Linked DNA regions of Homo sapiens: region 1 is linked to region 2. Evidence: fine-mapped expression QTL. A gene starts in region 2. The other region holds a variant in brackets. All regions are shown on one strand. Distances are between the middles of the regions.

Evidence for each region. PIP is the estimated chance that this variant, and not a neighbour inherited with it, causes the effect.
Region 1: its variant is the best candidate, but not a certain one, in a credible set for the expression of GGT6 in thyroid (GTEx, PIP 0.90).

The regions. Positions count from the first base shown.
Region 1 is chr17:4,486,808-4,492,279 of GRCh38, forward strand. SPNS3 (SPNS lysolipid transporter 3, sphingosine-1-phosphate (putative)) reads left to right here. Exons shown (of 12, transcript NM_182538.5): 12 at 999-1,397. The coding sequence ends at 1,087. It overlaps SPNS2-AS1 (SPNS2 antisense RNA 1), which reads right to left. Exons shown (of 3, transcript XR_001752763.2): 3 at 3,066-3,184. Among named protein-coding and RNA genes, the nearest start is that of SPNS2-AS1, 9.2 kb to the right of the region's middle. RefSeq lists enhancers at 2,844-4,043, 3,354-3,854. The variant C/G (reference allele first, on the strand shown) is at 2,567.
Region 2 is chr17:4,557,354-4,562,568 of GRCh38, forward strand. It overlaps GGT6 (gamma-glutamyltransferase 6), which reads right to left and starts at 3,224. Exons shown (of 4, transcript NM_001288702.2): 1 at 3,029-3,224; 2 at 2,205-2,407; 3 at 1,990-2,103; 4 at 1-1,704. The coding sequence starts at 3,168. The coding sequence ends at 662.

The sequences.
Region 1 (5,472 bases), 70 kb before region 2:
AGAAACAGAAAAGGTTAAAGATATAGCATGTTCAGGGTGACGAGTGCTATGGAGAGGTATAAAGCAGGAAAGGAAGGAGAAAGGGGCCGGGCGCGGTGGCTCACACCTGTAATCCCAGTACTTGGGGAGGCCAAGGCGGGCGGATTACAAGGTTAGGAGTTCAAGACCAGCCTGGGCAACATGGTGAAGCCCTGTCTCTACTAAAAATATAAAAATTAGCCAGGTGCGGTGGCACACACCTGTAGTCCCAGCTACTCAGGAGGCTGAGGCAGGAGAATCACTTGAACCCGGGAGGCGGAGGCTATAGTGAGCTGAGATCTCGCCACTGCACTCCAGCCTGGGCGACAGCAAGACTGTCTCAAAAAAAAAAAAAAAAAAAAAAAAGGGACAGGTAGGTGCAGGCTGCAAGGATCCCCACTGCACAGGCGAAACTAGAGCAAAGATCTGGAGGAAACGAGGGAGTGAGCCGTTCAGCGACCTGGGGAAAGACGCTTCCGGCAGTGGGGACAATCAATGCAAAGGCCCTGCCATGGGAATGCACCTGATATGTTTGAGGATCAGCAAGGAGGCCAGTGTGGCTGCAGCAGAAGCAAGAGGGACAGTGGTAGGGGTGAGGGATACGGGGCCAGAGCAGGCAGTCCTTGTAAAGACAGTGGCTTTTGCTCAGAGTGAGACGGGAGCTGCTGTGGGGCTTCCAGGAGAGGAGCACCGAGGTGGTCTGATTGATGTTGCCAAAGCATCTCCCTGGCTGCTGTGTTGAGAACAGACTGTAGGAGGGTCAGTGTTGAGGCCGAGAGGCATAGCCGACTCCCCTTCCAGGGGAGAGTGGTGCCTAGACCACGCCAGTGGCATTGAAGGTGATGACAAGGGGTTGGATCTGGAATGTATTCTGCATTTGGGACAGAGAGGATTTCCTGACAGCCCGTGCCCAGGCCCAGGCCTGGTCCCAAAGCACCTTCTGCAACCTTCGGGCAGGCTGAGCATCTTTCCTCCTGCAGGGACCCCAGACAGCAATGATGTGGACAGCAACGACCTGGAGAGACAAGGCCTACTTTCGGGCGCTGGCGCCTCTACAGAGGAGCCCTGAGGTCCCTGCCTACACTCGTCCTGCCTGCAAGCCTCCCGTTGGTCCCCACAGCAGCAGTGCCTCGGTTCCTCTTTGGCTGTCCTCGGGGACTCCGGCTGAGGCACATCTGCCACTTTTGAATTCCCGGCTGGAGAGCTGGCAGGACCCTGTGGCTGGGCTGGGAATGGAGCTGTCAGCACTCTGCGTGGGAGGCCTGGGCCTGTGCCTGCATCCCGCTCAAGGCTGCCCCAGCCTGGGGTCTCCAGCCTGGCTGCTGCTGGGCCCTGAATAAAGAGAGGCCAGTACAAAGCCCATGGATTTTGGGCCTGTAGACAGCCGTGTTATTTATAGCCTCTCGTGCCTCTGCTGGAGGGGAAGTGGGTGAGGACGGGATGGGCAGTCCAGGCCAAGGATGCAGGGCTGTCCTGAAGTGGGGAAGCTGGGGGGCTGGCTCAGCATGGGTCTCTAGGGGTCCGCAGCCTGGACCTCCCACTCTGACCCAGCTTCTCCATTCTGCAAAGTCACAGGCACAGGACACCCTCTACGTGATTCCACTCTTTGTTTTGTTTTGTTTTTGAGATGGAGTTTAGCTCTTGTCCAGGCTGGAGTGCAGTGGCGCAATCTCGGCTCATTGCAACCTCCGCCTCCCAGGTTCAAGAGATTCTTCTGCCTCAGCCTCCTAAGTAGCTGGGATTACAGGCATGTGCCACCACGCCCAACTAATTTTTGTATTTTTAGTAGAGACAGGGTTTCACCATGTTGGCCAGGCTGGTCTTGACCTCCTGACCTTAGGTGATCCGCCAGCCTCGGCCTTCCGAAGTGCTGAGATTATAGGCATGAGCCACCGTGCCCAGCCAACTCCACCCTTTGAACAAAACGTGGGGGCTGAATCTTGCTCTTGGAGATGAGTTTCCACTTGGGTGCTGGGGTGGGGATGTGGCTCCAAGTTCCAGGGAACCACGCAGAGGAACCCACGCCTATACAGACACGGGCGCAGCGGCCCCAGAACCCTGCTGAGGACTTGAGTGGCCGTGCAGGGATCCTCCTGGCCTGCCCAGTTCTGTAGCCCCGGTCTTCCCTGGGTCCACGCTCTGACCCCAGCACAGCGTATGGGGAGGGCTGGCTCTGCGGGGCCCACGCTTGCCACTGGGTTCAGAGCAGCTGGGCTCAGCGGGCCCTGTGGGAGATCGACAGCTTCCAGGCGGGCAGCAGTGGGGAGGCTTGTTCTCATGTTCTTTCCGCCTCCCCTGGTGCCCAGCCAGGCGATCACTTGCTCACTCACCGATGGCCACCTTCGCTGTGCCAGGCTGTGCCTGTCTCCCAGCAGCTGCAGGCAGAGCAACGACCGAGACTCCTGCGCAGCCCCTGATGCTTGCTGCTCTGTCCCTGCCTTCTGTGGGGTGCCCCCCAGCCCTCCCTGTTGGCTGCAACAAGCCCCAGGAGCAGGGCCGCACCACAGCCAGCCCTCCCTGCAGGCTAGCCAGGCCCTTGACCGTGACT[C/G]AATGCTTGGAGCTTATGCAACAGGCAGCCCTTCAAGTTACAAGGTAAAAGATCTGTGAGGATATTTTGTTTTTCCTGAGAAGGAGGCAGCAACTGGGCAGGAGCCAGGATGCCACGGTCCCTCTCAACATTCACTGGCTGTGTGACCTAGGTGGCTCCCTGACTCCCTGGCTGTGTTTGAGAGGTGTGTTGACATGGCTTTCTAGCCTGGGCCTCATGTGATTAGCACAGGCTGGGTCTAGACCCACAGAAGCCCAGCTCCAGGGTCTGAACCTTCCTCCCAACAGCCCCAGGGAGGACCCCTGCAAGGCGAGGCTCCCGGAAAATGAGTGAGGGCCGCCCAAGGGTCAGAACACTCAGCTGGGCACAGCGGCTCACGCCTGTAATCCCAACACTTTGGGAGGCAGAGGCTGATGTATTGCTTGAGGTCAGGAGTTCAAGACCAGCCTGGGCAACATGGTGAAACCCCGTCTCTACCAAAAATACCAAAACATACCTGGGCGTGGTGGCACGCATCTGTGGTCCCAGCTCTGGGAGGCTGAGGTGGGAGGATCGCTTGATCCTGGGGATGGGGGGTGGAGTTCGTCGTGAAGGGAGATGGCACCACTGCACTCCAACCTGAGTGACACAGTGAGACTTTGTCTTAAAAAAAAAAAAAAAAAAGAACACCAGCTGCCACCTCCCCACCCAGAGTCCAGTAGAGGAAGAGCAAGAACCTCGTTCATGCCAACTCTACAAACATGCATTGGTATCGGCGGGTGCCCATCAGGGTGTCCAGCAGTGAATCAGACTCCAGCCCTGCCCTTGGACCTCGCAGCCCACAGCAGGACAGGCAAGTGTGGCACACCTATGGGCAGAGTAAGGGCTTCCGTGCCCCAGAAGCCTTCAAGGAAGTGGCTTTGGAGTTGGTAACAAGGTGGGGGGCAAAGGGAATTCTAGATGCAGGGGATGGACCCACAAAGAGGGGGAGAGTGGGGCAGAAGATTTGCAGTGAGTCATGGAGGGGTGTGGTATGGCCAGAGAGGAGGGTGCGTGTGTCATTGAGCGGGGAGAGGAGGTGAGAGAGGCCATCTGGGATCAGAGGGGCGTCAGATGTAGGTCCAGGAGCTGGGGCTTTAATCCTATAATCCAGGGTAGTTTCTTATGACTCAAGTGCATTCTGATATTTGGGTTGCTGGGCAGGGCAAGGCGGTACTTCCCAAGGCTGAGCCACACGAGGTGCCCAGCTGGGAGTTTATAGGAAGCTATTGTCTAAAGTGGTTTGGGGCAGAGTGGGAGCTCTGGGGCTGGTGGACGCGGCAAGTGACAGAGACCAATATCTCCTCTGCAGCCAACCCAGACTCCCACCTCCTGCCTCTTTGGGGCCAGTCCTGGTGGGTCGAGGTTACGATAACAGCCTGGGGGAACCCAGCCACTCAGGCTGGAGTGGAGTCTGGTAAACAGAACACATCTTCCTCGCCTAAAGGCCCTTGTTGGGTAATCTCAGCCACGAATACTCTGGACTTGTTTGTTGGGAATGTCAAGAGGAGGAAAAATGCTGTTCAGCAGGATGAGTCCTTAAGCCTGACCTGACTCTCTTTATGTGTTAATTGCTCTTTCCAGACATAAGCTGCATTCCAGCTGTCAGGTATTATCCAGGCATGGAGGTATCTCTGTGTGCGTGTGCCTGTACCTGTGTGTGCATCACCATGTTGGCGTGTGGCCACATGGGGGTATGCTAGCTATTGGAACCAATACCAACAGGTATTAGTAAAGCTTTTTTTTTTTTTTTGAGACGGAGTTTTGCTCTTGTTGCCCAGGTTGGAGTGCAATGGTGCAATCTCAGCTCACTGCAACCTCCGCCTCCCGGGTTCAAGCGATTCTCCTTCCTCGGCCTCCCAAGCAGTTGGGATTACAGGCATCCACCACGCCCGGCTAATTTTGTATTTTTAGTAAAGACGGGGTTTCTCCATGTTGGTCAGGCTGGTCTCAAGCTCCCGACCTCAGGGGATCTGCCTGCCTCGGCCTCCCAAAGTGCTGGGATTAAGGCTTGAGCCACCGCACCCAGCCTTAATTTTTCATATTTTTAGTAGAGACAGGGTTTTGCCATGTTGGCCAGGATGGTCTCGAACTCTTGAGCTCAGGCAATCCACCCGCCTCAGCCTCCCAAAGTACTACAATTACAGGTGTGAGCCAATGCGCCTGGCCTAAAAGCTCTTTTTCCACTTTGTCCTGAAGGTTGAGGGGGTTGAACCTGTGTGTCTGGATTCCCACACCCTAACCCTGGCTTGTTGCTCTGCAACATCAAATATTGGTCTGTTTCATTCCCTGAAGTGTTTGACTTTGCTTTGTGCCTGGGTGGGCTTGGGAGGTTGTTTAATCTAATGCAGCCTCTACAGACAAAGCTGGCAGCAGGCAGCTGGAGGTTCCGGGAGCCATGCTTTATCTCAGCACAGACAGGTGTGTGACTGCGTGTGCTCCTGTGTGACCATATCAGTTTGGGTTGTGGGGTTGTATGCAACGGAAACAGACTGACTACCTCTACCAGGCAAAGGATGCATTGAAAGCACATCAGGAACTCATAGAATTGATGAGAAGGTTGGAGATTCAGGAGCCAGGGTTCCTGGGCCATATTATTTTGGGGTCTGTGCCAGAACTCCAGATATTTTATCCCTATTCTTTTGCCACCCTCCTCAAGATTTAAAGCCCTGGGCAAGAGATTCCAGTTGGGTTAGCTTGGATCCTATACCCATGCCTTGGTTTATAGCCGCATTAAGACCAGCAGACCAGTGTGCCGTTAGGAAGAGGAAGGAAGTCTCAGCACCAAAACAAAACAGGAATTAAAACAAGATGACAGGCTGGGCGCGGTGGTTCATGCCTGTAATCCCAGCACTTTGGGATGCCAAGGTAGGTGGATCACCTGAGGT
Region 2 (5,215 bases):
CCCAGGTGGGGTTGCAATGGTGCGATCTTGGTTCACTGCAACCTCCACCTCTCGGGTTCAAGTGATTCTCCTGCCTCAGCCTCCCAAGTAGCTGGGATTACAGGTGCCCGCCACCATGCCCAGCTAATTTTTTGTATTTTTAGTAGAGACGGGGTTTCGCCATGTTGCCCAAGCTGGTCTCGAACTCCTAGCCTCAGGTGATCCACCTGCCTTGGCCTCCCAAAGTGCTGGGATTACAGGCATGAGCCACCGCACCCAGCTATTTTTTTATTATTATTATTATTATTTTAAAGACAGGTTCTCACTCTGTTGTCCAGGCTGGAGTGCAGTGGTGTGATCCTAGCTCTCTGCAGCCTTGAACTCCTGAGCTCAAGCGAGCTTCCTGCCTCAGCCTCCCAAGCAGCTGGGACAACAGGCATGTGCCACCGCCCCTGGCAAATTTTTAAATTTTTAGTACAGATGAGATCTTGCTTTGTTGTCTAGGCTAGTTTCAAACTCCTGGCCTCGAGGTATCTTCCTGCCTTGACCACCCAAAGTGCTGAGATTACAGGTGTGAGGCACCACACCCTGCGGGTGCACACTCCATTGCTGCTGTGTCTGCTCTGCTCCTGCCCCCATGCTTCAGATAACTCTGCCTTCTGCCAGACCCACCCCCATCCTGTTAGAACCCCTGGAAGGGGCAGCAGGCATGGGGGACACTGGAGACATGGGCGTGCTCTGTGTGGGCTGCCACCTGGAGCAGGGTCCCTTGGCCACAAGTGCTGGGATGCTCTGTTGGTTCTTGCTGACCCTGATGCTGGTGCTGGGCCTGGGTAGGGGGCCTTGCTGCCAGATGCCTGAGTAGGGTGTGAGTCATGGCCCTGGCCACATCAGGGGTCCCTGAAGCCACAAGCCCCAACACATCAGCCTCTGTGTCATCCAGGCTGCCACGGAGGATGAGGGGGCAGGCCCAGGCACTAGTGGTAGACTTGGCCACCAGGTTGCTGAGCAGAACCCCAGTGCTTGGGGACAGGTGTGCAGAGCCAAAGGAGCAGTTGAGCGAGGAGGTGAGAAGGAGCACAGAGCCGCTGCTGTCCACGGCGGCCAGGGCACTGCTCTCGGGGCTCACAGCAGTCTGCAGGAACGGTGGGCAGGGGTCAGGGATGGGCGCCCCGGAGCGCAGGGCTGCCTCCAACAGTGCCAGCAGTTCTGGGCCAGCTGAGGGACTGGGGGTGGTGAACAGGATGCCCTGGGGCACAGGTAGCTGCTCTGCTGGTTCCAAAGTGGGCCTGGGCACAGCCGAGGGCACCTCCACCCCCAGGTCTCCCGCCAGTAGACTCAGTAGAGCATCCCCAGCAAGGTCTGAGGTGGGAGCGAGGGCTGCGCTGCGAAGCACAGCTGCCAGTTGTGGGTTGGTGGCTCGGGCCCCAGCGCCCAGGGGTGTCCCATCAGCATGGCAAAGTAGTGGACAGAGGCCTTCTGTGCCCCGAGCCACCAGAGCCCTTGCCAGGGGTGTGTCCACCAGGAAGCCCTCCTGAGCCAGCGTGGTGGGGCCCACTAGCAGGCGTGGCCAGGGCAGGCGGCCGAAGCGTGCATGCAGCAGGTGCAGGGTGGGCAGAGCCGCGGGCAGCCCCAGGCCGGGGGCCAGGGTCTGTGCTGGGCCTGATGTCAGGGCCGTGGAATTGCCTGAGGAGCTATCGTGGAAGAGGCCCCAAAACATGGCACCTGCAGGAGACAGAGGGGTCCCTCAGCAGCCGCAGGTCAAGGGTCACTGACTTGTTTCAGTCAAGATCCCTTGACTGAGCCTGGGATCAGGAGTTACTGACCAGGCCTGAGGTCAAAGTTCCACAGACCCGGGCTCAAGGGTCATAGCCTGGGGTTGGACTGCTGCCCAAACCCTAAGTCCTGCTCACTTAGCAGTCTTGAGGTCAGTGCTACTGACTCCCTAAGTTCCAGGTCACTGATCAGGCTGTGGGTTGGGGTTGCAGTCTGGGGTCAGGGGTCACTGACCTAGCCCCGTGGCATGAGGATGCACCACTGCCAGGCACAATGCAGCTCCAACTCCAGCATCCACGACGTTGCCCCCGGCAACAAGCAGCTCTCGGCCTAGGTGGGAGCATGTGGCTGCAGCAAGGAAGGCACTGTCATGCAGCAAGGAGGGGGGCTAGGCTGGGCTGGTGACCCCTGACCCTCCCCTCCCCAAGCCGCCCCCAGCACTGACTGACCTGCAGGGCTGATGATGGCACCGTGGTGGTATACGCCAGGGCCGTGGGAGTGTCCGCCGGGTGGAGGGGCCACAGAGCCCAAGCTTCCTGTCGACCTGCCCTGATTCTGGAGCTGCCTCACAGCCAGGGAGCAGCCAACAGCCAGCAGCAGCAGGGCTGCCACTACACGGGCCCAGGTTCCGGGCAGCCCGCCAGCCTTGTTCCTGCAGAGGGGGGGTGTCCTGAGCCACGGCTGGGACAGAGGGATGCCCAAGGACCCCAAGAGACCCCAGGGAATATTTCCCAAAAGGTTTGATTTAGCAAGAGGAGCACAAGTCAGCCAAGGAGAAAGGGCTTCTTGGCAGCGGGTGCATCTTGGGCAGACATGGGGATGGGAAAGCATCTGGGGAAACTGAGCCTAGCTAGGGAGGGAGCCTCTGGAGGGGAGATTGGTGGGGCAGAGTCCACTCAGGTGGGAGGGAGGCCCAGTGGGGTGTGGCAGGCAGGAGAGAAGGGGCTGGGGAGCAGGCCCAGCCAGGCGTAGTCAGGCCCCAACCTGCCCAGCAGGTGCCTCCTGCACCAGGACTTGGGGGCTGGGGACCTTTGACAAAGCAGCAGATGGGACAGAGGCTGGCTTGGTACAAATGTCCCTCCAGATGCACAGACTTTTGATTGGGTCAGGCCAAGTCTCGGGCTACAGCCTGGGTTTTCCCCCAAATTGACCGTACAGTGCCTGGAGCTAAACCCAGCGGGGAGTCGCCTGGTCCCCCTGAGGGGCTCCAGAGAGAGGGACTTGCCAACCTCAAGCCTGGGGAGCCTGGTGCCCAGACCCCTCCCTTACTTACCTGGAAGAGTCCTGGTGCCTCCGGGGGTTTAGAACCAGCGCCTCTGATGTCTCCTCCTCCTCCACTTCCTCCTCCGACTCCAAGCTTGGCTCCCAGGGCAGCAGCTTCTGATAGACCACGGGCTCTTCTGCCCGCTCCATGGCCCCCCAGTGCTCGCCCCAGCCCTCCTGCCTGCCAGCCTTTCCGGCTGTGTCTCAGAGGCCCTGCCCAAGCCTGGCAGGTGGGAGGTGGCAGCGACCTTGGGGAAGGGTGGGGGTGGAATCCAGAACAGGTCTGGGCAGGGCACGGGGCCAAGGAGGCTGCATGTGAGCCTGCCCCATTAGGACACAAGGCCCGAGGAGCTCTCGCGACAGGGTTCCCGGGGTGACTGCCTGTAAGGGGCCACAGCTCAGTGAGGTCGAGAAGGAGTTCAGCCTTAATGCCACAACCTTGATACTCAGGGCACCTGCTGGGCTCCTCCCCTTGGGGGATGTAGCCCATGGATCCCACCCACCTGGGACTCTAGGGACTGTGGACTTGAATTAGAGCTACGGTTTCACGGTGGCTTGGGTCAGAGCTCCCACGTGCTTGAGTCTGCACGTGACTAGGTTCTGGCGTAGGGGTGTCTGGTCTCTGGCCGGGGTCAAGGCTCAGCCTGTGGCTACTCTGGGTCTGGGTTTCTTTGAGGAGCAACTTGGTTCGTAACTCCCTGTGCGTGTTTTGCGACTCTTGTCCAGAAGGTAGCGCCACAGCCTGGAAACCAACATTTCTAAATTCATTCTGGGATTCCCATCAAGGACTTGTTGCAAAACAGTGCTGTTTGTAACAGTCCCAAATTGGAAAGTGCCCAAACATCCATTATCGTTAGAATGAATGATGTAAGTCACAATGGACCACTCTGCAGCAAAGAGAGTGAGTGATCTACAATTATATGCAATAATATACACAGGTCTGACAAGCATAAGGACGAGGGAAAGCAGCCAGGCAGGAGACAGCGCACGCTATATGCTTTCATTTACACAAAGTACACAAACAGGCAACAACAAAAGAGCAACAACAGTCTGCCCTTAGAAGTCAGATAGTGACTGGAGGAGGTACCAGGGGGTTTCTGGAATGCTGGAGATGTCCTTTCTTTCCTTCCTTTCTTTCCTTTCCTTTTTCCTTTACCTTTCTTTTCTTTCTCTTCTTTCTTTCTTGACAGAGTTTTCATTCTTGTTGCCCAGGCTGGAGTGCAATGGTGCAATCTCAGCTCACTGCAACTTCCACCTCCTGGGTTCAAGCAATTCTTCTGCCTCAGCCTCCCGAGTAGCTGGGATTACAGGCACATGCCACCACGCCTGGCTAATTTTTTGTATTTTTAGTAGAGACAGGGTTTCACCATGTTGGCCAGCCTGGTCTTGAACTCTTGACCTCAGGTGATCCGCCCGCCTCAGCCTCCCAAAAGTACTAGGATTACGGGTGTGAGCCACCGCGCCCGGCCGAGATGTTGTTTCTTAATCTGAGTGTTGGTGACACGAGTGCCCTGGGTGTGAAAATGCATTGAGTTGGGCATTGATGACGTGTACTTTTCTATGTGAATATTGTCTTTCAATAAAAAAGTAAAAATGGAAAAGCTCAGGTATTTTCTACATTAAAACAACAACCATAAAAATCATCCTTTGAATCATCCATCATCCCATCTGGCTCTCCAGCTGCTTCCCTTTCTCATGGCCTCTTCACGAGCAAGTACACGGGTTCTTTAAGATTGGTGTGCATCACGATCACCTGAGGAGCTTGTTAAGTCAGATCGCTAGGCTCCTCTCCTAGAAAGTCTGGCTTCAGGTGTAGGGTCTAGAATGTGCTATCCCAATTGCCACAGTCCTGGAACCACACCTTCAGTCTAAAAAAAAAGTGTACACCTGCTGTGTTCACTTCTTTCTCTCCTGTTTCTTCCCTTAGCTGGTTTCTGTCTCTAGTTCCCCAGAGAAACCTTTGGTTTCCTTTTTTTTTTTTCTTGGGCCAATAAAAAACCAACCAACCAACCAAATAGAGCAGCCTAGGGTTGCCACCTTCTAATTTTGCCAATGGTGGGGAGATGGGAATCAAAATGACCATTTTTATGATTTTATGACATTTATGTCATAAAATAATTTGGTTTCACTTTCTGTTAACACAGGGTAAGAAGGTTAGAATCTCAGAATGAAGGTCCATCCTTCCTTCCTGGGAAAA